Homo sapiens: one gene and its partners. The protein of the gene in region 1 interacts with the protein of each later gene in a biochemical or structural test. Each region holds a gene or a part of one and is shown in the gene's direction. Other genes may lie near its edges.

The links.
Region 2: the proteins of GRIP2 (region 1) and IGSF5 interact in a test that uses a peptide from one of them, tested with the Homo sapiens proteins (one large-scale study listed by IntAct).
Region 3: the proteins of GRIP2 (region 1) and SCN4B interact in a test that uses a peptide from one of them, tested with the Homo sapiens proteins (one large-scale study listed by IntAct).
Region 4: the proteins of GRIP2 (region 1) and UQCRC2 interact in a test that uses a peptide from one of them, tested with the Homo sapiens proteins (one large-scale study listed by IntAct).
Region 5: the proteins of GRIP2 (region 1) and KCNT2 interact in a test that uses a peptide from one of them, tested with the Homo sapiens proteins (one large-scale study listed by IntAct).
Region 6: the proteins of GRIP2 (region 1) and TRIM50 interact in a test that uses a peptide from one of them, tested with the Homo sapiens proteins (one large-scale study listed by IntAct).
Region 7: the proteins of GRIP2 (region 1) and CRHR1 interact in a test that uses a peptide from one of them, tested with the Homo sapiens proteins (one large-scale study listed by IntAct).

The regions. Positions count from the first base shown.
Region 1 is NC_000003.12:14,530,343-14,533,842, reverse strand, and holds part of GRIP2 (glutamate receptor-interacting protein 2), read left to right. Parts: intron 1-3,500.
Region 2 is NC_000021.9:39,799,882-39,802,581, forward strand, and holds the end of IGSF5 (immunoglobulin superfamily member 5), read left to right. Parts: intron 1-1,380; coding exon 1,381-1,476; 3' UTR 1,477-2,200; downstream 2,201-2,700. UniProt on the Homo sapiens protein: Provides, together with MAGI1, an adhesion machinery at tight junctions, which may regulate the permeability of kidney glomerulus and small intestinal epithelial cells. Mediates calcium-independent homophilic cell adhesion.
Region 3 is NC_000011.10:118,150,024-118,154,006, reverse strand, and holds the start of SCN4B (sodium channel regulatory subunit beta-4 isoform 1 precursor), read left to right. Parts: upstream 1-1,183; 5' UTR 1,184-1,333; coding exon 1,334-1,394; intron 1,395-3,983. UniProt on the Homo sapiens protein: Regulatory subunit of multiple voltage-gated sodium (Nav) channels directly mediating the depolarization of excitable membranes.
Region 4 is NC_000016.10:21,959,861-21,963,360, forward strand, and holds part of UQCRC2 (cytochrome b-c1 complex subunit 2, mitochondrial precursor), read left to right. Parts: intron 1-2,599; coding exon 2,600-2,656; intron 2,657-2,900; coding exon 2,901-3,025; intron 3,026-3,500. UniProt on the Homo sapiens protein: Component of the ubiquinol-cytochrome c oxidoreductase, a multisubunit transmembrane complex that is part of the mitochondrial electron transport chain which drives oxidative phosphorylation.
Region 5 is NC_000001.11:196,342,941-196,346,440, reverse strand, and holds part of KCNT2 (potassium channel subfamily T member 2), read left to right. Parts: intron 1-3,335; exon of another isoform or gene 3,336-3,385; intron 3,386-3,500. UniProt on the Homo sapiens protein: Sodium-activated and chloride-activated potassium channel. Produces rapidly activating outward rectifier K(+) currents. Contributes to regulate neuronal excitability.
Region 6 is NC_000007.14:73,318,083-73,321,582, reverse strand, and holds part of TRIM50 (E3 ubiquitin-protein ligase TRIM50), read left to right. Parts: intron 1-1,340; coding exon 1,341-1,436; intron 1,437-2,508; exon of another isoform or gene 2,509-2,530; coding exon 2,531-2,761; intron 2,762-2,873; coding exon 2,874-2,896; intron 2,897-3,500. UniProt on the Homo sapiens protein: E3 ubiquitin-protein ligase that ubiquitinates Beclin-1/BECN1 in a 'Lys-63'-dependent manner enhancing its binding to ULK1. In turn, promotes starvation-induced autophagy activation.
Region 7 is NC_000017.11:45,818,820-45,822,319, forward strand, and holds part of CRHR1 (corticotropin-releasing factor receptor 1 isoform 2 precursor), read left to right. Parts: intron 1-2,535; coding exon 2,536-2,621; intron 2,622-3,500.

The DNA.
Region 1 (3,500 bases):
AAACCGGCCAAAAATTGTAGCAGGAAGGGAGTTGCAGCCACTCGGTGTTGAGACCAGCAGACTCCGGCACCTCCGCTGTCCCTAAGCTGTCACTGTAACCCACTTTAGCACCCGGTAGTGCACTGGAGCAAAATCTGAATATTGGGGTGAGGAAAGGGAAGACAGGCAGTGTCAGAGACAAACTTGGAGGGCACCACGGAGACCCAGGGCATGGGTCCCCCCCTTCGCCAGCCAACATCGGGCACCCTGTGCTTCAGCATCCAGCTCTTGGGGGTGCCGTTGTTCCTCCGTCTGAATTTCTGACTTGTTTTTACAATTAGGGCTCACAGCTCCACATCCACTCTGGGATTCCACTGCTCTGAATTTGGTGAACTTGGGCTTTGGCTTCCTTATCCTTTCCTTAAGAGATAATCCTTCTCCCTCCCCCACTTTTCTCTTAGGATTCATAAACCTGGAGCTAGCAAGCTTATCTCTGGTCTTCCCAAGACAGCTGGAGATAGAGAGGGATTTTCCAGGGACAGAATCTAATCTGCACAGGATAAGACGTATTTTAATTCCAGAATTGCCCTCCTGAAATACCAGAGACGTTCACTGTCACACAGTTGATAGAACCCAGTCTTTTTGATTTTATTAGCTCAGAAACATCTTGTTGAATCTAAATGAAGTGCGTATTAGGAAACCGTAATGGGAGGCATTATACTTAATGGGGTGTCGCCTGAATCCGTGGTGGCTGATGTGAACTGGAGGTGGAAGGCGGATGAGCGGAGCTGCTGAGGACCCAACCCCAGGGGACCTGGAAATGATTCCTGGCTTAACTGCTATTTGATTTGTTATTTATCAGCTGCTGGCAAGCAAAGAGAGCCCAGCCCTGGTCTGGCGGAGCACGGTAGTTGGCAACTGGGACCTTTCTCAATGGTTACAGCTGCAGGTGGGAACGCTGTCAGGCTTCCATAGGCCCAAGTTGACCAGCAACACTGACTCAGGCTGAGCCCCGCCCTCAACTCAGCAGTATCCGGCCCGGAGCCAGGCTGAGCCCCGCCCTCAACTCTACAGGATCCGGCCCGGAACCAGGTTGAGCCCCACCTCCGACTCAGTCTGCGCCCAGCCCTTAAGTCAGTCTGAGCCCCGCCCTTAACTCAGGCTGAGCCTGGCCCAGACCCAGGTTGAACCCCCTCCCCTAACTCAGGTTGAGCCCCACCCCTGACCCAGGTTGAGTCCCCTCCTGACTATAGAGCAATGGTTCTCTGTTGGGGGCGATATGGTTCCCCTAGGGCACGTTTGGCAATGTTTGGAGTCATTTTTGTTGGCCACAGATGCTCCTGGCATCTGGTGGTTAGAGGCCAAGGATGCTGCTCAGCTTCCTACAATGCAGAAGAGAAGCCCCCACCACAGGAATCATCTGGCAAAAAATACCCATAGTGCGAAGGCTGAGAAACCTCCCGTAGACTGAGCCCTGTTTCCGGTTCTGGCTGAGCCCTGACGCTGGCCCAGACTGAGTCCTGACCTTGACTCAGGCCACTCATACCCAGGCTGAACCCTAATCAGACCCTCCCCTCATGAAAAAGACCTGGCTGGAGCAGAGTGGGGAAAGTGGCCTCTGCCACCTGCGGGGACCAGACCTTCTCCCGTCTTTTCTCCCGCTGCCGCTGAGGATGGGAGGGCGCGTGGGCCGCTGGGTCAGGTCTCACTTTCCATGGGTGTGAGGTTGGGGAGGAGAGCGAAGTTCCCACAGCTGGCGAATGGCAGAGCCAGGATCTCTACTGAGGCCTGGCTGACCCCTGAGCCTCTTCTGCTAACACTAGGCTAAGCTGGAGCCGCAGAGGTTGGGGTGGTAGGAGAGCCCTTCTTCAAGGGCAGGCGGGGGCATGTGCAGGCTCAGACGAGGCCTGAGGAAGGAGCAGAAGGTGCCCCGGAGGGCTGAGCCCTGAGGCAGCGCAGGGAGCCCACCAGCTTGATGGTGCGTCCCTTCTCACTTTGGCACCTGTTCTTGCCCGTGTCAGCCCAGTACTGAGAAAGGAGACTTAGATGAGGAATGTGAAAAACATAACCCGCTCGATGGGGCCTCAAGCACAGGGTAGAAAACGCTAAAAGGCCTGGGGTCTGCTTCCAGCTCTTGGTAGACGCTGCTTTCGCCAAAGACCTCCCTTTTCTGAGCCTGTTTCCTCGTCTGTCAAATGGGTGTGATCGCAGCACCTACCTCCTCCCAAGGCCACTGTGAGAAGTGAATGAGGTGGAACAAGATAATGTGGTGGTGTGCACAGGGCATGGCTGCTGCAGGATCTGTGAGTTTCCTTCCCCTCTCTGTCAGCACATAGAGGAGAAACCAGAATATGCCCCATCAGGCTGAACCCTGCCTTTAACTCAGGCAGAGCCCCGCAAAATGAGGCATGTGCAAAAGGAGGGATGCTGCAGGGAGGCTGGGGTCCAGCAGGTGACCAGACAAGCTTCCAGCTTCAAACTCCTTTGAAATGCTCAGGTGCAGTCACAGGAAAGTAAGGACAACCTCAGGCATCAGAAATGAAGCGAGTGAGAGTATCAAGGAGATAAGGATGGTCTGTGTAATCACCCCATCAACTTTGTAAGGGAGGTCTGGCCAGTCCAATAAGGCAAATAAGAGAAATGAAAGGCATAAAGTTTAGAAAGTAAGAAATAAAACTGTCATTTTCACAGATGATATGATTATGTATATAGAAAATCCAAAAGAATGTATGGCTAAACTTAGAATTAATGAGTGAATTTAAAAGTTCAGAATACGTACTCGCTTAGGCAGCACAGATACTAAAATTGGAATGATACAGAGAAGATTAGCATGGCCTCTGTGCAAGAATGACACACAAATTTGTGAAGTCTTCCGTAGTTTTGCAAAAAAAAATAGAAAGAATGAATAAGACCTAGTATTTGATAGCACACTAGGGTGACTATAGTCAATAATGATGTAATTGTACATTTAAAAATAACTAAAAAGATTTAATTGGATTGTTTGTAACACAAAGGATAAATGCTTGAGGTGATGGATACCCCATTTACTTTGATGTGATTATTATGCAGTGCGTACCTGTATCAAAATATCTCATCTACCCCATAGATATATACACCTACTACATACCCACAAGAATTAAAAATAAATTTTTTAAGCTCAGAATATAAAACGAACTGTATATTTTTACACCAGGAACAAATAATTAGAAAATGAAATTTGAAAAACAATCCAATTTCTGTAGCTTTAACACACTTTAAATGCCTAGGAATACATTTAATGAGAGTGGTATAAGACTTTTTCTCATACAAGTACACAGTGTTCTTAGGAGAAATTAAAGATAAAAATGAATGGAGGAATATACTGTGATCATTGACTGGAAGATTCAATATTGTCTCCCAAAGAAAAAGACATCAATTCTCCACAAATGGGCCTATACATGCATTTCCACTCAAAAAATGGAGAGAAATGGAAAACAAGTAGGATGAGTGCAGGTGATGCTGGGGCTTCTCTACTGGGGTGG
Region 2 (2,700 bases), on another chromosome or scaffold:
CAGAAGGAAAAAAGAGATTCATTTTCAAAACTGTCATATACAATATGACAATTTTCTTCTCTGATTATTTCTCTGATGACTGAATCTACAGTTAGAATATGTAGTACTGACATGGTTTTCTAGACAAGAGTTTCCCTGTTGGTGAAACAGAATGAATTTGGGTGCAACTGCAGCTGAAACACATTAGGGTAAAAGTAATAAGTAAAATTAGAAATTCCTACTAAAATAACCAATTACTGGGAAAGGCATGCTTTTTTATTTCAATATGAAGCCAGGGGATTTGCAAATGTTTTTTATTTTGGCGAATATTTAAAACAAAGAATCCTCCTTTTCCTCTCTTTGTCCTGTGCCTTAACTCACTGTCAGTGCATTTTCCTGGCTGTTTTAGGAAATTCTCTGTCTCTGTCATTTTCAGAAGATGGGCATATAAACAACTTGAGACCTGGATCAAGCCTTCCCCACAAATCACCCCCTCATTGAGACAAACAGAAATACATACTTGATAAATTTAGAAAACAGCGATGTTTGCACAACCCAGCAGTGAAAACAAAAGCAAACGACAGTAGGAATCTCTAGCATATTAGCAGCAGAAGGCACATGTCTTAAAGCACTGCTGACATAGTTCCATCCGCTGTCCAGTTTTCCCTGTGTTATTGGGAGTCAACAAATTAAGAGCGTGAGCCAGAGTAATTCTATCCTCAAGACTTGCTAGCATTCCATCACATTGTGAATAATTTATCATGCCCAGTTACATTATTTAAGATGTTAAGTGCAGCTATTGTGCCCTGGAACCTGAGCTGCCATTCTCAGGACTGGCAGGAAAAAAGTGTTGCACACATTTTAATAAGGCAATATTATGAGACAGGCATTGGCCACTCTGGAGGATTAAATGGTTTGTTTGGGATTACATTTCTGAATGAGAACAGGGAAGACTATGTTTCTCCCTGATAGGGAAAAGAGACAGGTGGGTGATCTATCTGGAGTCAGTTCTTCAATTTTGTCCCCCTGTTCTAGAAACAATGCACGCTCTTTAAGAAGTTTAGAAATATTTTATATTTTCATAAAAAATCTAGCCAGTAAAGCAAGAACTTCCTTAGGAAAATTGAAACACAAAACAAAACAATGAGTCGTGGTAATTTGCCTTAGTCAAAACAAATACTGATTCTTGGAATTGGATTGCCCTTTAGGGCCTGAACTTGGAAAACTTCTATATTGTGTGTTACCAGAAATAATGCAAGAAAGGAAGAGCTTATTTTAACATTTTTGTTCCTCTCCGTACCTTAATTTTATCTTAACAGATGAGTGAAGCTCTCTTTTCAAGTTTGCATTTTACAGTGATCTCAACCCATTAAATTGACTTTTTTCCTCCTCTGTTGCCAGCGGGCTGATCAACGTCCACCCAGGCCAGCAAGTCATCCACAGGCTTCTTTTAATCTGGCCAGTCCTGAGAAGGTCAGTAATACAACTGTAGTATAGCAAAGCCTTCCCCAAGCTCCACTGAGCACTTGGCTGACAATTCAAAACACGGCGATGGCATCCTTCCTTTCCATCCTAAGACTGGCCTGCAGCTTTGCCAACATTACCTGAAGAGGAGATGTCGGAGTCATCAGAACTGATACTTGACAGTGAGAGAAGGAATCGATTTTCCCAGAGTTCAAAGTAGAATGTGACTTTTAAGAGGTTTCATGGTTTTTGTGAATTCCATGAAGTTACTAAGTAAAAGCTGCAAATTCATCATAATTTTTCTCAACATTCAACACTCCTACTTGTTAATCCAACAAATGGTAGATAAAAGTCTGTATTCTACCATGCCTTTCAAAAGTTTTTATTATCTGAAAGCATATGAAGATGATATTTATGTATATTTAATATGTAGGGGTATTATTACATATTATCAGTGAAATACGAGTATAAAAATTAGGGTCAACCAGAAATCTGCAATTGACTGTCAAAACTGAGCTCAGTTAAAGTAAGATTCAATTCTAACATGGATGTGCACGTTCCTAAATATCTTATGATTGAATATTTACATGAAGGCATTCATTTTTATCTGCCCCTTTATCAGACCTATTTGCATCTCCTCAAATGAATTAGATGTGGCCTATGCTTTGCAGAGGATGGACCTCACCTACTCCGCACACCGTGAAAAAACTGGAAATGGGCATTGTAGTCTTTAATTAATAAAAACACCAAAAATGTGTATTGCCTTTCTTAACTCTTCACTATTCAGTTGGTCATTTAAAGAATCATAGTATTCGGGAATCAAGCCTTTTCCGAGAAGGAAAACAAGAGCCTTCTGCAAAAATCCATCACATCTTCACAATTATCTTTGCTGACTGTACATTCACTTCATTTAAAGTTAACATGAATGTTGTTATGAAGAATAAATTGCTGCCTTTCCCCAGTATTTTTCTTTTTCCATGTAGATACAGTCAGTGAATTTAACTGCCCATTCCACCCCTTCATATTTAACCTAGGGGCAAGACTGTGATTTGACCGTACTCTGAACTGGTTGGTGCAGATTTCTATGCTGGTTATAATTAGCAACTGCTTTGAGTCCCTCAAGCTCAACCATGCTATTGCTAAAGCAGAATTTGACTTTTAAAATATGTCAGGATTTTAGTGAATTCCTTACGGATACTTAGTAATAGATGCAAATTTGTCATGGTGTTTCTAATCACTCACTCCTGCTTGCTAATC
Region 3 (3,983 bases), on another chromosome or scaffold:
GGACCAGTCCTAGACAGTAAAGAGGGCCTGTGATGCAGGGAGGGTCTTGGATGGTTGGAAAGGTGCTGAGGAGGAGATCGACTCATTTACAGAACCACCAGCCCAAGTAGCACCGCTCAGGTGAAACTCTTTCACTTGGGCCTGTCTGGGAAAAGGCTTACTCGTTCACAGCCTCGCCTCAGCCCTCTGACCTGGTTGTCACCCTGGACTCCTCCACCCCTACCCCAAAAGGGAGGCCGAGGGAGTCTGCCGTTCCGAAGAAAACAGGAGAGTTGGAGGAGGGCGAAAAGGCAGCATCTGAGGGGGACGGCCTAGGTAGGAAAAATGAGAAGCAGGGGTGCAGCGGGAGGGTGAAATGGGGCGCAGGACACAGACCAGGCGCGGACCAACCTGCTCCCTAACCTGGAGCGTGGTGATTTCCAAGGGGTCCATGGAGAAATGTGGGGCGGGGTGGCGTGGGGGTGGGGGAAGGGAGGGCCGGGGCAGTTTGCAATGGGAAAGCTCTGTTCCGGGCTTCCTAAAACAACCGCCGGAGTTGCTGAGCGATGGGGCAGAAGGTGGCGGGAGCGGGTCCCGAGGCTGCACGCGCGCCATGTCGCACGCCACCGAGGAGGCGCAAGCTGCAGTGGGCAAGCCCGCACACGCCCACCCGTTGCGGCAGCGTCCGCTGCGGACTTTAAAGCGGTCCCTTGGCGGTCCTGGGAGAGGGAGCCGCTAACCTTCCCGTGTTCCCCCAAGCAAAGCAAAACAGTCTTCCAGCAACCGAAAAGCTCCACCTCTACTCCCCCCGAACTATGCTCCTAATTGGCAGCTCAGCGCATGGGATGATGCGGGTGGCTGCAGGCCGGCCCTGCAGTGCCAGCCGCAGCAGCCCAGCCCCACTGGAGAGGGAGTTGGGGGCACGGCGTGGTCCCGGGGCTCCGGGACCGCGAGGCGGGGTGCGGCAGGCAGGGTGCGCAGCGGGCGGGGGCTCCCCGGCCTACGCGGCGGCCACCGCCCCTCCTGCGGCTGGAGCGCTTCCAGAGCAGAGGCGCAGCCTCGCTCGCCGCTGCGCTCGCTCCGTCTTCCTCCCGCTCCTGCTCCGGCTCCTCCTACTCCTTCCCTCCCGCCGTTGCTCCAGCAGCCGGCTCCCAGCAGCGGGCGAGCGCGCCTCCCCCTCCGCTCCCTCCCTCCCCCTCCTCTCGCTCTCTGCCCGCTAACTTTCCCGAGCCCCGACCGGCGGCGCAGAGCTCCGGGGTAGCTTTGTGGCCGAACGCCGACCTCGGGCGGAGAGCGCGGCTGTGCCCAGTATCCCATCCCCGCGACCCCCGCGCGCTCCGGAGAGAACAGGACTATGCCCGGGGCTGGGGACGGAGGCAAAGCCCCGGCGAGATGGCTGGGCACTGGGCTTTTGGGTAAGGCAGCCCCAGCTTGGTCTCTTCTCTTGCCTCCCCCCACCCCCAAAGAAGGGGACACTCGAGAAGGAAGATGCCTTGGATGGGGTGGGCTTTGGAGTGCGGCACGGAATGAGGATGGTGGCCGCCGGCTTCCTGCCTGGTTCCTGCCTGGTTCATAGGCTGTGCTCCCTGGGGACCGTGTGCGTCCCTCTCTACCCCATCAGCCCGCCAGTCTCAGGATTAGTTTTTTTGCTGTCCTTGGCACCTTCGGCTCCAGGTATTTGGAGCTGGATCTTGGGGCTGCAGCGCGGGTCTCCAGAGTTCAGAGGTTCAGGATGCTGGAGGAGGGGGGTCCGTGCCTTGAGTGCAGGGGATACCAGGTGGGTTGCACGTGTGACTGTTGGAATGGTGGTTTCCATCCCGGCCCAGAGCCGTTTGCTTGTTTCCCAGGCACCAGGCATGCACCAGTTGGGGGTGGGGGAGTCCCCTTCTTCCTGGGCCCTTTTCCTGCTTTGCTCCTCTGCCCTGTACCTCCCTCAGGAGCCACTGCCTTCCCTACAGCAGCACCTGAAAGCTGGAAGGGGCTGGAGGGGCTTGCGGGATCATTCAAGGCCCTTTAGGAACGGCCTTGTCTCTCTTCCTACAAAGAGATTCCGTAGGGAAGACCTGTTTGACCTGCTCCTGGCTCTTCATTTTTGAAGTGAATATGGAGACAGAGAAGACATGTCCAGAGGACACGGAGGAAGAAGCATTATTAATATCTATTAATATGCACATGAGAGTTTTGAGTGTCAAACTCCAAGAGATTAGGGAATGATATTTATTCATCCAGGATGTAATCTCCTCATAAATCATAGCCAGACTTTAATGTAAGCCGACTCCATCTCTGGCAACGGCATCTCTTCCTGTTTATATTGGTCAGATTTGGCTTTTGGCAGCTCCCTGCATTGGGTAAGACACACGGTGTAGGTATTTCTGCTGAAAACAGGGAGACAGAACCCTATAAGGGAAGTGGCTACTGTTTCTGCGAATGTAAACTGTGTGCAGATCTAGCAGGTTGGTGCCTGGTGGTGAAGAGGGGAGAGAGTATTTCTTGTACTTGGGATGTTTATTTACCTCTGTACCGCTAGATGGAAGACACCCTTGTTTTCTCCTGTACCTTGGCACAGATGTCATGCTGGTTTCACAGTGACCTTAATGAAGTGGGCCTTAGTGACGCCTGAGGCTCCTTTTCACAGGGTGGGCACAGCGCCATTCCATGCTACTTCCCCTCATCCCATCTCAGATCAGCCCAGGTCCCCATGGTGGCAATGGCAGGGGTAAAGGATCACTGAGGAATTCAAACTCAGCCAGTCATTAAACTACCCCACTTCACACCTCTGGCTTACCTTCCTGGGTGGTGGGATGCCAGTCCCTTGTTTGTTAGAATACTCATAGAACCAGGCCTCTGTGGGCAACCAAGAGGGCCCTGAAAATGATGTGTGTGTGTGTGTGTGTGTGTGTGTGTGCACGTGTGTAAGGGGGATTGTAGGCACAGTCTTGGTACATTGCTCCAGGTGGAAGCCCCACCTTCTCCAAGGACTGTTCAGCTGTATAGACCAGGTAGGGGCTAAGGCCTATTGATATAGGTTTAGATGAATTTCTGAGCTACCCTTTGGGAGCCCAGGAGAAAGCAGAGTGACTTGTAGGTGGGAGACCTGCAGGCCCCAGGACTGGCCTCATCTGCTCTGTCCCCTGCCCCTCTGGTCTGCAGAGGGACTCCAACCAAAGTCCCTTTGGCCCTTGACCAGGTAATACTGACTGAGCCCTCACAGGGGCATTGGTCTGAGCTTGGGACATAGATGACATCCTTGCTTCTCAGTCCAGTGGGGGAGATACAGAGACGACTGGACAGCCAACTGGAGGTGTTCCCTGGGAACATCAGAGTTGGCAGCAACTCTGGGAAGCAGAGCACAGAACTCTCCTAGGGATGAGGAAGTCATGGTCCAGAGAGGGATGGTGACTTGTCTAGGGGCTCATGGCCAATTGATGGCCAAGTGGGACAGAATCTAAGTTTCTTGGGCTCTGTCACACCACGCTGCTTCCCACTTAACTCAAGTCTGGTGAGGGGGAAGGTAAATAGTGATTGTGCTTAGGGCTGAAGAATAAGTGAGGCTCTGGGGCATGAGTGTGGAAGGATAAAGACTTGAGGGGCCTAGAGCGGCTCTTTTCACAGCTTCGGAGACTGGGTACAGAGCAGTGAACTCCCAGGAGTCCTCTTCCCCTCTCCCCGTATCAAACCCAGTCTCACAGACTGAGACCAAAGTGATTTTTGATAACCTAACAAAATACCCTTTTCTTAAACTGAGAAGCAGTTTCCAAGGCTATATTATTGCCATTGAGGTTTATGTGCTTTCCAATCTCTTCCTAAGCATGTAACTGGTAATATCTCTGTCCTGCCCACTCCTTCCTTGTTCCCCCATTTACTTAATTGCTGTGATCTGTGTTTAATTATCACTTGTGAGGGTGCTCTATTGCACAACCCTGTTTCCCCTGGTGTGTATTTATTAAGGGCTTGTTTAATGAGAATGCAATTAAGGAGAGGGTGCTCAGTCCCACTCAGAGGAA
Region 4 (3,500 bases), on another chromosome or scaffold:
GCATTGTTGCAGTAATAATTTGAAAGGAATCTTTTTTCTGAGCAATGGGCTTAAAATATTCAGTCAACCATGCTATAAACAGATGTACTATCATCCAGGCTTTTTTGTTCATTTACAGAGCATAGGCAGAGTAGATTTAGCATAATTCCTAAGGGCTCTAGGATTTTGAGAATGGTAAATGACCTCATCCTAAAGTCACCAGCTGCATTAGTCCCCAACAAGAGTCAGCTTGTCGTTTGAAGCTTTGACGCCAGGCATTGACTTCTCTAGCTACGAATGTCCTGGACGGCATCTTCCAATGTAAGGCTGTTTTGTCAGCATTGAAAATCTGTGGTTTAGTGTAGCCACCTTCATCGATGATCTTATGTAGATCTTCTGGATAACGTGCTGCAGCTTCTATATTAGCATTTGCTGCTTCACTGTGTACTATTATATTAAGAAGATGGCTTCTTTCCTTAAAGCTCATGAACTAACCACGGCTAGCTTCAGACTTTTCTTCTGCATCTCACCTCTCTCAGCCTTCATATAATTGAAGAGAGTTAGGGCATTGCTCTGGATTAAGCTTTGACTTAAGGGAATACAGTTTGATCTAATCCAGACCAGTAAAACTCTGTATTATCAGCAATAAGTCTGTCTTGCTTTCATATCATTTATGTGTTCAGTGGAGTAGCACTATTAGTTTTCTTCAAGAACTGCACTGGTGCAAGAGGCCTAGCTTTTGACCTGTATCCGTTTTTAACATGCCTTCCTGACTTCCTTAGAAGCTTAATCCTTTCTAGCTTCTGATTTAAAGTGAGAGACATGAGACTCTTCCTTTCACTTGTATACTTAGGGGCCATTGTCGGGTTATTCATTAGCTTAATTTCAATATTGTTGTGTCTCAGGAGTAGGAATATCCAAAGAGAGGGAGAAAGACTTGGGGAGCAGCTGGTCAGTGGAACACTCAGGACAGAAACAGCATTTCTTTTTTTTTAATTAATTTATATTAAAGACAGGGTCTTGCTCTGTTTCCCAGGCTGGAGTGGAGTGGTGCAGACATACCTTATTGCAGCCTTGAACTCCTGGGCCCAAGCGATTCTTCTCCCTCCGCTTCCCAAGTAGCTAGGACTATAGGCACATGACTCCATGCCTGGCTAATTTTTTATTTTTTGTACAAATGGAGGTCTCACTATGTTGCCCAGACTGGTCTTGAACTCCTGGCCTCAGGTGATCCTCTCACCTCAGCCCAGCATGCTGGGATTGCAGATGTGAGCCACTGCACCCAGCCCAGATTTTTTATATATTGTGTTGTCAGTGGTAAAGATGATAGAGAATGTCTCATTCTGCTGATAGGAGTATAAATTGATACAACCACTTAGGAAAGAATCAAGGAATATCTGGTAATATTGAAAAACCCCACAGTTTTTAATCACATTCACAAAGGTATTCTTTATAAAGACTGGAAACGATCTAAGTGTCCATCTTTAGGGAAATGGGTAAAGTATGACAGAGTCATGATGAGACCACTATACAGCCATTACGGAATGAACTAGATCCATACGTCAACATAGCACAACTGAAGGGCAAAATAGAGTGTGAACAAGCAAGTTTCAAGATTTCTTTAAGGTATTTTAATTTTTTAAGCAGAAAAATACTATGTAGTGCTTATGATTGTGGTTTCCAGAGTGGGAGAGAGTGAGGGAATTGGTCTTGGAAGGGTACGAAAAGATCTTCAACTTTATTTGCCATTTTAAAAAATTGTGGTCAAATGTATATAACATAAAATTTATATATATATATATATATATATATATATATATATATATATATTTTAGACAGTCTCGCTGTGTCGCCCAGGCTGGAGTGCAGTGGCATGATCTTGGCTCACTGTAACCTCCGCCTCTTGGGTTCAAGCGATTCTCCTGCCTCAGCCTCCGTGGTAGCTGGGATTACAGGCGTGCGCCACCATGCTTGGCTAATTTTTGTATTTTCAGTAGAGACCATGGTTTCACCCTGTTGGCCAGGCTGGTCTCAAACTCCTGACCTCAAGTGATCCGCCCACCTCGGCCTCCCAAAGTGCTGGGATTACAGGTGTGAGCCACTGCGCCCGGCCCAAATTTATCATTTTCTTAAGTGTGCAGTTAAGTGGCATTCAGCAACCATCACCAACATTCAGCTCCGGAACTTTTCTATCTTCTCCCACCTGAAATTCTGTACCTGTTAAACAATGGCTGCTCATTCTCCCCTCCCCTCAGCCTTTGGCAACTGCCATTCTCTTTTCAGTCTCTACAAATTTGACTACTCCAGGTACCTCATAAGTAGAATCATACAATATTTGTCCCTTTGTGACTGGCTTATTATCCTTAGCATAATGTCCTCAGGGTTCATCTGTGTTGTAACATGTGACCAGATTTCACTCCTTTTAAGGTTGAATTATTTGCTGGTTTTTAAAAAAATTTTGAATTTTAGTTGGTTAATATGTGGAGTTTTGTTATATTATTGTTCGCACCTTTTATACTTCAGAAATTTTCTTTCCAAAGGAATTGGTTGATAGAAGATTATAAGGGAAAGCTTACTATCCTGATTCAGATGATTTACTCTAGTTTATTTTCCGATTCAGTGTGACCGCAACAAGGGAAAACATGGCTTATACTGTGGAATGCCTGCGGGGTGATGTGTAAGTACCTGTGTGTGTTTAGGACTTCTGCTTTGAAAGAAATACTAAGCTGCTCACTTCTGGTCTTTGTAATGCGTCATTATGACCTCTGACTTCCATTTTGGATTATTGTTCATAAACTGCTCAAAAACACTGCTTACCACAAGACCTAAAGTTTCACATTGAGAGCATTACAGCTATGTAGAATCTCAAATGTTGGCTTTACATTTTTGACTCATAATTCTTATCTCGATGTCTTCTGTAGTGATATTCTAATGGAGTTCCTGCTCAATGTCACCACAGCACCAGAATTTCGTCGTTGGGAAGTAGCTGACCTTCAGCCTCAGCTAAAGATTGACAAAGCTGTGGCCTTTCAGAATCCGCAGACTCGTAAGTACATTTCCAGATCACATTTGATTCTAAGATACTGGGTTTTTTAGAAGATCAATTTATAGAAGAAAAAAAATTGCTGTCAAAATTTTTATTTTTATTTTTATTTATTTATTGTTTTGAGACAGAGTCTCACTCTGTCACCCAGGCTGGAGTGCAGTGGCACGATCTTGGCTCACTGCAACCTCCAGCTCCCGGGTTCAAGCAATTCTCCTGCCTCAGCCTCCTGAGCAGCTGGAATTATAGGTGTGCACCACCACACCTGGCTAATTTTTTGTATTTTTAGTAGAAACAGGGTTTTGCCATGTTGGTCAGACTGGAGTTCAGTCTTGAATTCCTGGCCTCAAGTGATCCACCCACCTCAGCCTCCCAAAGTGCTGGTGTTACAGGTGTGAGCCACCATGCCTGGCCAAATGTTTTACTCCTTGAATTTGAAAATATCTTTTTCAAAAATTTGTTATTTAGATTTATTATT
Region 5 (3,500 bases), on another chromosome or scaffold:
GTGTTTGATAAAGGAGTTATTTTAAATTAGTGAGTAAAAAGATAGATTATTCAATACATTGAGTAACTGGGTGGATATTCAAAAAAGCTAAATTCAATACATTCATCATAGAAATGGAAAAATGATTACTTTCTGCCTAGAGAAAATATTAGTCCTAAAATATTAGTAAGTAGGGGATAGGGGAAGCTTATGTAATGTAGACCAAATGCTGCCCTGAAACACAGCAAGGAAGCAGTGAAAAATATACAAACAAAAAGCTTTAATTATTGGTACCAATCATGGAGGAGTTTTTTTGCCTTTTTGTGATGCATTTTATTTTTTATTTATTAGAAAATATTTCAGACATTCAAAAGGTATAAGAATATTATTATGAACACCCATGTACCTAGTATTCCAGATTTAAAAAAATAAACATGCCAAATGTTTGTGAAACCTCACATACACTATGTCTGTTTGACATCTCCTCTCTTTTTCTAGGACTTAGTTTGCTATAAAGCTGAATCTGCAGACTATTATTTTATTTAACATTTTGTATTTAAGATTTCCCCATGATGTCTTGTAAGCACTGGGACTTGCATTTTCACTGTTATCTATATGTATATTTATTTGTTTGTTTATCTATCCATGTTTCTTGTGACTAAGAATATTTAAGATTGTTATATATTTTTCTCTTCCATTAGCAAATTCTCGAAGTCTGCCTTCAGAACATACCCAGAATCTAACATGATCCAAACCATTATCATCTAGGTGGATCATTGCAATAATCCCCTCACTGGTCATTGTCTCTTCTTCAATCTGTTTTCAACACAATGACCAGAGGGATTTTATAAAATATGAATCAGACCTTTTGTACTAGTCTTCAAAAATCTCCAATGATTGCCAAGTCATCCCAATGAAAGGTCAAAGCCATAGTACAGTTATTTATAAAGTCCTACATGATCCCTCCTCCCAGCTAGTTACCTCTGTGGCCCCATTTTCTCCCCCTCCCTGAATTCCAGCTAAACTGGCTTCCCTGCTCTTCCTTAGCCGCATCAAGCATTAACTGTCTCAGGGAAGTGCTTGTAGCTACTTCTGCCTGTAATGGTCTTCTCCCAGACCTCTCTTGCCTTCTTCAAGATTTTTACTCAAATATCATCTTTTCCCTAGTCACACTATTTACATTTTATTCTACCTGCTAAAATATTAGCTCCCTTTCTGATTTATTTTTCTCCCCACAATTATCACCTCTAAACACAACACAATTTGCTTTTTCATGTTTATTGTTGGCCCTCTCCCACTAGTGGCTCTATGAGACAAGATATTTTTACCTTTTTTGTTAACTGCCATAACCTTTGAATCTAAAGCCTTTCCTGACGTTTCACAGGTGCTCAATAAATATTTTGTGTATTAGCTAATGAGTGGGGACTGGATATACACATCAGCATTAGATGTAATATTGATGTCTAGCATTTCTCAAGCAAATAACATGCGATGAAAATAACAAAGTTTGTATACTGACAATTAGATTAATTTAGAGATTCCAGGTTAACTATTAGAGGTTTTGAAGAAATCATAAAGAAAAAAAAAATTCCAACGAAATGACATCCTAAAAAAAGATGCTGCCTGAGGGGCAATGTGCCAGCATAAAATAGCAAGGCAATAAGCAAATTATTTAAGAAAATTTATCTGAACTGTCCTAGTCCGATTCCATCCATTTCTGTTCCCTTCCAAGTTACCACATTGTGTTCCCCTGTCAGCTTCTGGAATTAGATTTCTAATTCTCTTGAATAGCTTTTAGTACCCTTGCATGACAATTAGTTGACCTCATGCTGGCTTTTGGATCTCAAACAAATACTGATGAATTACCAGCACCATCTCATACATTTTCAGCCTTTCAGATAGATTCTGTTTTTGCCAAGTATCATCTTGCTAAATAGTAATGTGGTACAAAACAAAAATAACTTTATTTTTGTTTGCCAAAGGGAACGTTTTTTCCACCAGAGACAATCATTCTTAGGAAGTAGTAGCTAGATGTAGTCATATGCAATCAAAAATCAAAACTGTTTTATGTTGTTGTTTTCCTACTTCCAAAAATACGTTAACATTATGGAAGAATGGGCACAGGTTTTAAAAGCATTATTGTTTAGTAAGTCGACTAGGTTTATTTAAAATAGCTCCGGAATTTAGCAATGAGGAAGATGTAACATCAGAGTAATATTGGCAGCTTACATTTACTGCGTGTTTTCTCTGATCCCAACATCTCCCAAGTGATTTCTTTGTGTTACCTCATTTTATCTAACCCAATGAAGCTGATACTGTTTGTCACTGAAGAGATAAAGAATCACTGAAAAGTTAAATAACTCACAAAAGATTGTAGAGTTTGGCCAGGGGCGGTGGCTCACACCTATAATCCCAGCACTTTGGGAGGCCAAGGCGGGCGGATCGCCTGAGGTTGGGAGTTCAAGACCAGTCTGTCCAGCATGGTGAAACCCCATCTCTACTAAAAATACAAAAATTAGCTGGGCATGGTGGCAGGTGCCTGTAATCCCAGCTACTCGGGAAGGTTAGACAGGAGAATCGCTTGAACCCAGGAGGCAGAGGTTGCAGTGAGCTGAGATCGTGCCATTGCTGTCCAGCCTGGGCGACAAAGCAAGACTCCTTCTAAAAACACACAAATAAATAAAAATAAAAACAAAACAAAACAAAACAAAACACGATTATAGAGTTGGGACTCAGATTAGACAATCAAACTCCAGGGCCCAGGCTCTTAACTCTTTAAGCATACTTAAGAAGGAATGAGGCAGCAATGAGGCATACTTAGAAAATATAGATATTTTTTAAAGCTTATTGACAATTTGAAAATATTGACAAATGTTACCTTCCTAATAACCCTTTAGACAATACTCAGTTTAAAATGGCCTTTAAAGTCCTAAACATGGTTGTAATGTCTTGTGATCTGTTTTGATCCATTAAGAATTGATTAGAGATTATGATAAATTATTTTGATTTTTATATATTTATCATATTGCTTCTAAAATGTGCTTTTTTGTAGAGTTCATAAGTGTTATTCAGCAAAGGTAAATGAATTTATTATATAAAATGAGAAATAACCTATTTATATATCCATTATGAATTTCTCATAAATTGAATTTTTAATATATTTCTAAAGCCACTGAGTTAGGCGGGCAGCGCAGAACGTTCCAGAACAAAAGACATTGTACTTTTTGTGGTAAAATTATCTTCTTTATAAAAATACTTTTGTGGGATGTCTTTTGGAGATTTAGTCAGTTCAGGCTGTTATTACAAATTACCACAGCTTGGGCATTTTATAAACAACAGAAATTCATTTCTTACAGTTCTGAAGGCTGGAAATCCAAGATCTAGGTGCCAACATGATCCAGTGCTGGTGAGGGCCCCCTTCTGAGTTTTAAACTGCTGACTTGTATTTTCACATGGCGGGAAGATAGCTCTTTAGCATCTTTTTAAAAGGCACTAATTCCATTCCTGAGGGCTCCACTCTC
Region 6 (3,500 bases), on another chromosome or scaffold:
CCGGGCAGTCCAGGAGAAGTGCATTTATGTCAGCTTGGGGAGGTCGCAAATCCGTGCTGTGTCCAAGCCCACCAGGAATGGATTCAGGTGTTTATGGGTGTGGGGATTCACCAGGTTTAACCCAGGCCCGTGTGAGCACCACTGGCCCTAGAATTAGCCTCACCTGGCGCCGGCCTTTTTGTGATGGCTCCTGATTAAATACCCACTAATTCTGGATCTGCTGGTGACCACAGAGTTCACCTGATGGGTCCCCTACAGGCAGCATTCAATCCAGGAAGTGCCAGCATCACATGGTGACTTCTGGTAGCTGTAACGTTTAGTGACTCTCTCCATGTCATGCAGAGGGGTGACATTGAGACCCTCTTATGCCTGGGAAGTTCCTGCTGTCAATGCAGAATATTCTTTAAAAAAAAATTAGAGATGGGATCTCACTGTGTTGCCCAGGCTGGTCTCAAACTCCTATCCTCAAGTGATTCTCCCACCTTGGCCTCCTAAAATGCTGGGATTACAGGCACGAGCCATTGTGCCCAGCCTAGAATATTCCTTTTTTTTTTTTTTGAGACGGAGTTTCACTCTTGTTGCCCAGGCTGGAGTGCAATGGCGCGATCTTGGCTCACTACAACCTCTGCCTCCCAGGTTCAAGCAATTCTCCTGCCTCAGCCTCCCGAGTAGCTGGGATTACAGGCATGCACCACCACGCCTGGCTAATTTTGTATTTTTAGTAGAGACAGGGTTTCTCCATGTTGAGGCTGGTCTCGAATTCCTGACCTCAGGTGATCCACTCGCCTCGGCCTCCCAAAATGCTGGGAGTACAGGCGTGAGCCACTGCGCCCAGCCTAGAATATTCTTGAATTAATTTATCTTATTTTTTATTTTTATTTTTTTGAGACAGAGTCTCACTGTGTCACCCAGGCTGGAGTGCAGTGGCATGATCTTGGCTCACTGCAACCTCCACCTCCCAGATTCAAGCGATTCTCGTGCCTTAGCCTCCCAAGTAGCTGGGACTACAGGTGTATGCCACCACGCCTGGCTAATTTTTGTATTTTTAATAGAAATGGGGTTTCACTATGTTGGCCAGGCTAGTCTCGAACTCCTGACCTCAAGTGAAGTCCCACCTCAGTCTCCCAAAGTGCTGGAATTACAGGCGTGAGCTTCTGCGCCCAGACTATTCTCGAACAATTTAACCTGTTTTGGACTCAAGGGTACCTGGGTGGCTCTGGTTCCCGCCCTGGTTTCCCTGGGAGTGCTTGTGGCCATTGGGATACTCCCAAGAAGGTGATCCAAGGAGCTGAGAAGGGGAGGGATCAGCTGCTCATGGGGCCATGGCCTGTTGCCTCCAGGAGGAGCTCGCAGCCCTCATCTCTGAGCTGAAGCAGGAGCAGAAAAAGGTGGATGAGCTCATCGCCAAACTGGTGAACAACCGGACCCGAATCGTCGTGAGTGCCCCTTCCCTCTGCCCCTGCCTGGGACCGGCCACCTTCACTTTCCTGTAGAACTCAGTTCTCATTGGTCCTTTACAGAAAACCATGCCTTCCATATAAAGCCAGAACTCAAAGCATTCCCAGGGCGGGGTGGGGAAAGCGCAAATCCTCTCAGGGGAATTCAACCCAGTTGTCGTTAGGACTGGCTCCAAGTTGGCTTTTGCCCTCTGTGTCCTTGAGACTGAGATAACCCAGGACTTGAGTCTCAGGGGGTAAACAGCTCAAAGCATGGGCATGACTCCTCCGCCCCTGTGCCACCTGTGTCTGCTTGACCTTGCCAGCCTGTCATGGTGCCCTCCCAGTACCTGGGTGCTCAGGCGTGGAGAGGCTGGCAGCCCTGGGCCCTGGCTGATCTCCCGAAGTGAGAGGCACATGGGGCTGGGAGCCATAGTGCCCCGGCCCTGGAGGTGGCTGTGAAACAGAAACAGGAGCCGGGCAAGATCCAGGAGCACTCAGCCTCCCTCATTTACCCTCCTCACCCTTGCGCGGCAGGCGGTACCAGCCCTGCCTGGTGGAGGCGGAGCTCAGGGTTCTGCAGGGAGTTCTGGCTCCCTCACAGCAAAGCCTGCTCGCCTAGGGCCTTCCTGCTTTCCTTCAGTTGTGGAACTCTGGGATATGCACATTTAATAGCTGAAATAGGCAAAGTGGGGTGTGGTGGCGTGCATCTGTAATCCCAGCAACTCGGGAGGCTGAGGCGGGAGGATTGCTTGAGGCTGGGAGGTCAAGGCTACAGTGAGCTATGATCATGCCACTGTGCTCCAGCCTGGGCAACAGAGTGAGACCCTGTCTCTTAAAAAAAAAAATTAAAACAGGCCAAAACAGAGCCTCTCCATTTGAAACGGGAGCTGGGGTCACCCTCCCCACGGCCACCGCCAGGGCTCCCCATGCATGGGGTGAACTCCCTGCCCGGCGCCAGGCCATGCAGCCTCCCCTGAGACTCAGGTCCCAGGACCAACCCGGTCAGGAAGGCCCTGGGGACACCGAGGCCAGCCAGACAGAGCCTGGCAGCTCGGCTGTGACTCTGCAGTGACCAGCCCTCCCTGTCCCAGAATGAGTCGGATGTCTTCAGCTGGGTGATCCGCCGCGAGTTCCAGGAGCTGCACCACCTGGTGGATGAGGAGAAGGCCCGCTGCCTGGAGGGGATAGGGGGTCACACCCGTGGCCTGGTGGCCTCCCTGGACATGCAGCTGGAGCAGGCCCAGGGAACCCGGGAGCGGCTGGCCCAAGCCGAGTGTGTGCTGGAACAGTTCGGCAATGAGGACCACCACAAGTTCATCCGGGTGAGTGGACAGGGAGGCGTCCCATCCCCATACCCGCCAGGGCCTTCCCCTTCCCAACAGTGCCCTAGCTTCCCACCTTCTAGCCTTAACCTCCCTCTCTCTTGCCTTCCAGAAGTTCCACTCCATGGCCTCCAGGTAATAACCTTGGAGAGAGCTCAGCCAGGGTCTGGTGGCTGCGGGCACGGGCATCTCAGCTCCACTGGTTCCTCCATTCGGTTTAACCAGCGCCTCCCAAGCAGCTGCCCACAGCTGGCTCTATAACTGAGCCTGGGAAAAACAGAGGAAAGTCATGTCCCTGCCTTCAAGGGTCTCGTAGATGGGTGGGGAGGCAGATGGTGAACTGTGGGTACCTAGAACAGCAGAAGTTCACTCAAGCTACAGAAATACTAGAGGAGGGTAGCTCATGCCTGCAATCCCAGTACTTTGGGAAGCCAAGGCAGGAGGATTGCTTGAGGCCAGGAGTTCGAGACCAGCCTGGCCAATGTAGTAAGACCCCATCTCTACAAAAAATACAAAAATAAAAAAATTAGTTGGGCATGGTGTCATGTGCCTATAGTCCCCGCTACTCATGAGGCTGAGGCGGGAGGATTGCTTGAGCCCAGAAGTTTGATGCTGCAGTGAGTCGTGACCATGCTACTGCATGATCCAGCCTGGGTGACGGAGCGAGACCCTGTCTCAGAAAACAAAACAGAATGCTAGAGGAGGAGCAGGTGTCTGGGGGACCTGGCAGAGGGGCACA
Region 7 (3,500 bases), on another chromosome or scaffold:
CATCTGATCTTCAAAGGGATGGGAAGCATTTCCAAAAATATCTATTTTCCCGTGATTCTTTGGGAGGACTGCTCAGCTCAGCAATTAAAGACAAGGAGGTCGCATCCTCCCTGGCAACGGCTCCCTGCTTGTTGGGCCTGCTTTCTTTCGGATCACCTCCTTTCTCCCCATCAAAGCCTGCTCCCTCTGGGTGACCCAGCCTCTGATGGGACTCCTGACTCTCCCCCACATGTCAAGGGGGGCAAGGGTGTTGAGCAAAGGGGCTCCTCCCACAATATCCACCGGTACCCTTTGATGGGGACAAGGGACACGCTCTGAGTCTCACGTAAGGTTATATAAATACAGCTCCAAGACAATAATAATAAAAATAACAGCCAACATCACATCCCAGGTACAGTTCCAAGCACCTTGTGCATGTTAACTAAAAATATTCAACTCTTGATGTAGGAGCTGCTATTCAGATGCTCTCACTTACAGAGGAGGAAGCTGACAGGTTTCGGGATTTGCCCAAGGTCACACAGCTAGTGGAAGGTAGTGCCAGGATTTGATGCTAGGCTGTCTGGGTCCAGGGGCCACGCTCTTAGCACTACTCCATGCTGCCTCTTAACTCAAGAACCACCCCACCCCATCCCACCACCCCCGGGCCCCTTCCAGCCGGATCTCTGTCCCAAAGCCCCTATCCCTGGAGGTATTTCAGAGCAGCCTCTGGTCCCGGGACTTCCCAGCCATGGCAGAGACACTGGGTTCTCCTGGTTCCTCGTCTCACCCTCCCCTCAGACCTCCATGAAAACCCACTGGGTGAGCCTCAGCCCTCCGGTAACTCATCCCTCATTTGGCAATTGGAGAGAATCAGCAGCCTCTTCACCAACTCTGCCCAAGGGCCTGAGGCTCCCTGAGACTGCGGTCCACTGACATGGAAGAGCTTTAAAAATCCATTTAGCCGGATCTCCCACTGGCCAGCTGTAGCTGAGCAGCTCCTCAGCAGGGGGACCAGGGAGGGGAATGGAGGGGAGTAGTGCGAGAGAGGAGAGGCCACATCTACTTTTCAGCCCTGGAGGCCAGGACGGGCTCCCTATCATCACCTTCTTGTCCTGATGCTGCCAGCAGAGGCAGCTCCCAGGCTGGATGGTCCCTTGGGGATCAGCCAGTCCAGCCCCTCCTTTTATAAATGAGAAGGGGTCCCCAGAGGTCAGTCATGCAGCACGGCAGCAGCTCAGCTGGTCCCAGGGCCCCAGCCTCTAGATCCTCACAGGGTTCTGCCCCATGGGGCTCCAGACTCAAGGACTGGGACTCCAGCAGCTTTCCCAGCCCTGTTCCAGCCCCAAGGGCCACTGGGAGCCACAGGAAGGCCTACAGTGAGGGAGGCTCCAGGTGAGATACTCAGGGCTTCATTTCTCTGCCAGGCAGTTCTGCCTGAAGTCAGAGCCAGAATTAACTCAAGGAAGCATGTTTAGAGCTACTGATGCCAGAGCCGGGTACAGGGTGGGGTGGGGCAACCTCTGCCAGCAGAGAAGATGAGATGGAATTTAGAACTCATGCTGTCCCTTCCCAGCTAGGTTTTAGGACCCTGGAGCTCAAGCCTGGTAGGCATGAAGGAGGGTAAGGGGAACACGTTGGGCAGCTCTGCCCATCCCAGGGCCCTAAAGCCAGGCATCAATTCAGCTCACAGGGCCCCTCCCCATCTCCTTAGAAGGTGACAGGTTCTGGGCCACAGTCCAGGCCGGTGGCTGCACAAACCTCCATATGTCCCTGGGCCACTCTCCTGCCTTCCTCCTTGAGTGACATGGGCCAGGCTAGGAGCAGCTGTGACAGACCTGAGTGATGACATCTCCCCACACACGCCTGTCACCTGTCATTTTCTGTCCAAGAGACCTCCATCATGGATGTTCCCCCCACCCACAGACCACGACCTTCCAACACAGGCCCGCTATGGGGAAGTGCCACCATGGGACCTTCCCCAAGATCTGCCCCATGAACTCTGAGCCCCCATGTGCAGCACAGCCAGTGAGGACCTCCCACGGCAGCCTCTGTGAGATGGCTCTACCACAAGAAGCCCTGTCATGCCACCTGCCACGCGAGCTGTCACCGCATACCCTTCCACCGTGTCATGCCCAGCCTCGTGAAAATTGACTCATGAGGTCTCACCATTTTTTTGCTGTCTTGCAAGACCCCTGAAAAGGAGATTTCTCAGAAGAGCACCTACCTGTCATCTGCCACCACATAATGACTTGCAAAGGAACAGCCCAGGGAGCTGGTCAAGCCTGTCCACGGGCCAGTCCTGTGGGCATGATCATGCCAGCTTGAGTGGGCAGAGCCGGGGGAGCCACCAACCCCTGCTGGAGGCCAATGGGCAGAAAGAGGCAGGAAGATGGGGGTGGTAAGGAAGCCCCTCTCCCCAGCTTCACTACACAACCCCCAGCCAGCAGGTGCCTGTACTGGCCATCTACAGATCCATCTACGCATCCATCTGGGCCAGGATGGTCAGGCAGGGGCCGGGGCTGCCCCGCCATCACTGCCTCTCTCTTCCTTTTCCAGACAATGGCTACCGGGAGTGCCTGGCCAATGGCAGCTGGGCCGCCCGCGTGAATTACTCCGAGTGCCAGGAGATCCTCAATGAGGAGGTGAGGCTGAGCCGAACAAGGCTGCCCATATGGAGGGGAGTCCAGGGTCCCCAGCAGAGTTTTGTGCCTGCTACTTGGAGTCAGGGAGCCAGAGGCTAATGTCAAGGCCCTGCTCTAGTGAAGCTGACTGGGGAGCTGGAGCTGTCAACTTGGAAAAGGCCCATGAGCAGGCGCCCTCGAGGGCAGGCTGGACCAATGGGGCACTGGGCAGGCTCTGATGGTGATGAGATGGGTCCTTGTTCCTTCCTTCCTTCTCCCTGTGCTCATCGGGCAGCCGCTTGCACTGGGCATGGGACTGTCCTGGGGGTGCAAAGGGAGACCAGACTCGGTCACAGGAGTCCCACCCTTTTCCACAACACATGCCTGAGAGATACATCCAGTTCCAGCCACAGGGCTGTATGGAAACCAGGGACGGGATGGAGGTAGCAATGCAGTTTGAAAAAGCCCTTGGAAAGCCTTTTAAAATGTTAAATGTTTTTGAGCAGATATTGCTTACACAGAACTCAGAAGGTACAAATGGGAATACAATGTCCCCTCCCACCCCGTCCCCAGCCACTGGATTCCCTCCCAGAGGCAACCATTTTGCCAATTTCACAAGTGTCCTTCCAGAGACATTCTCCGCATACACGAGTAATTTTGTATACGTATTCTTTTTTGTTTTTACCTGAATGTTGCATGTTATACACACTGTCTACACCTTGCTTTTTTCATATAATCATCTATCTTAGAGATGGTTCCATATCAGTACATAAAGAGCATCTTCATTCTTTTTGCATTTGCATAATATCACAAAATGTACCATAACTTATTTAAACCAGTCTTTATTCTCAGTCTTTAGTTATTACAAATGCTGCTGCAATGAATAATCTTTGAAGGGTG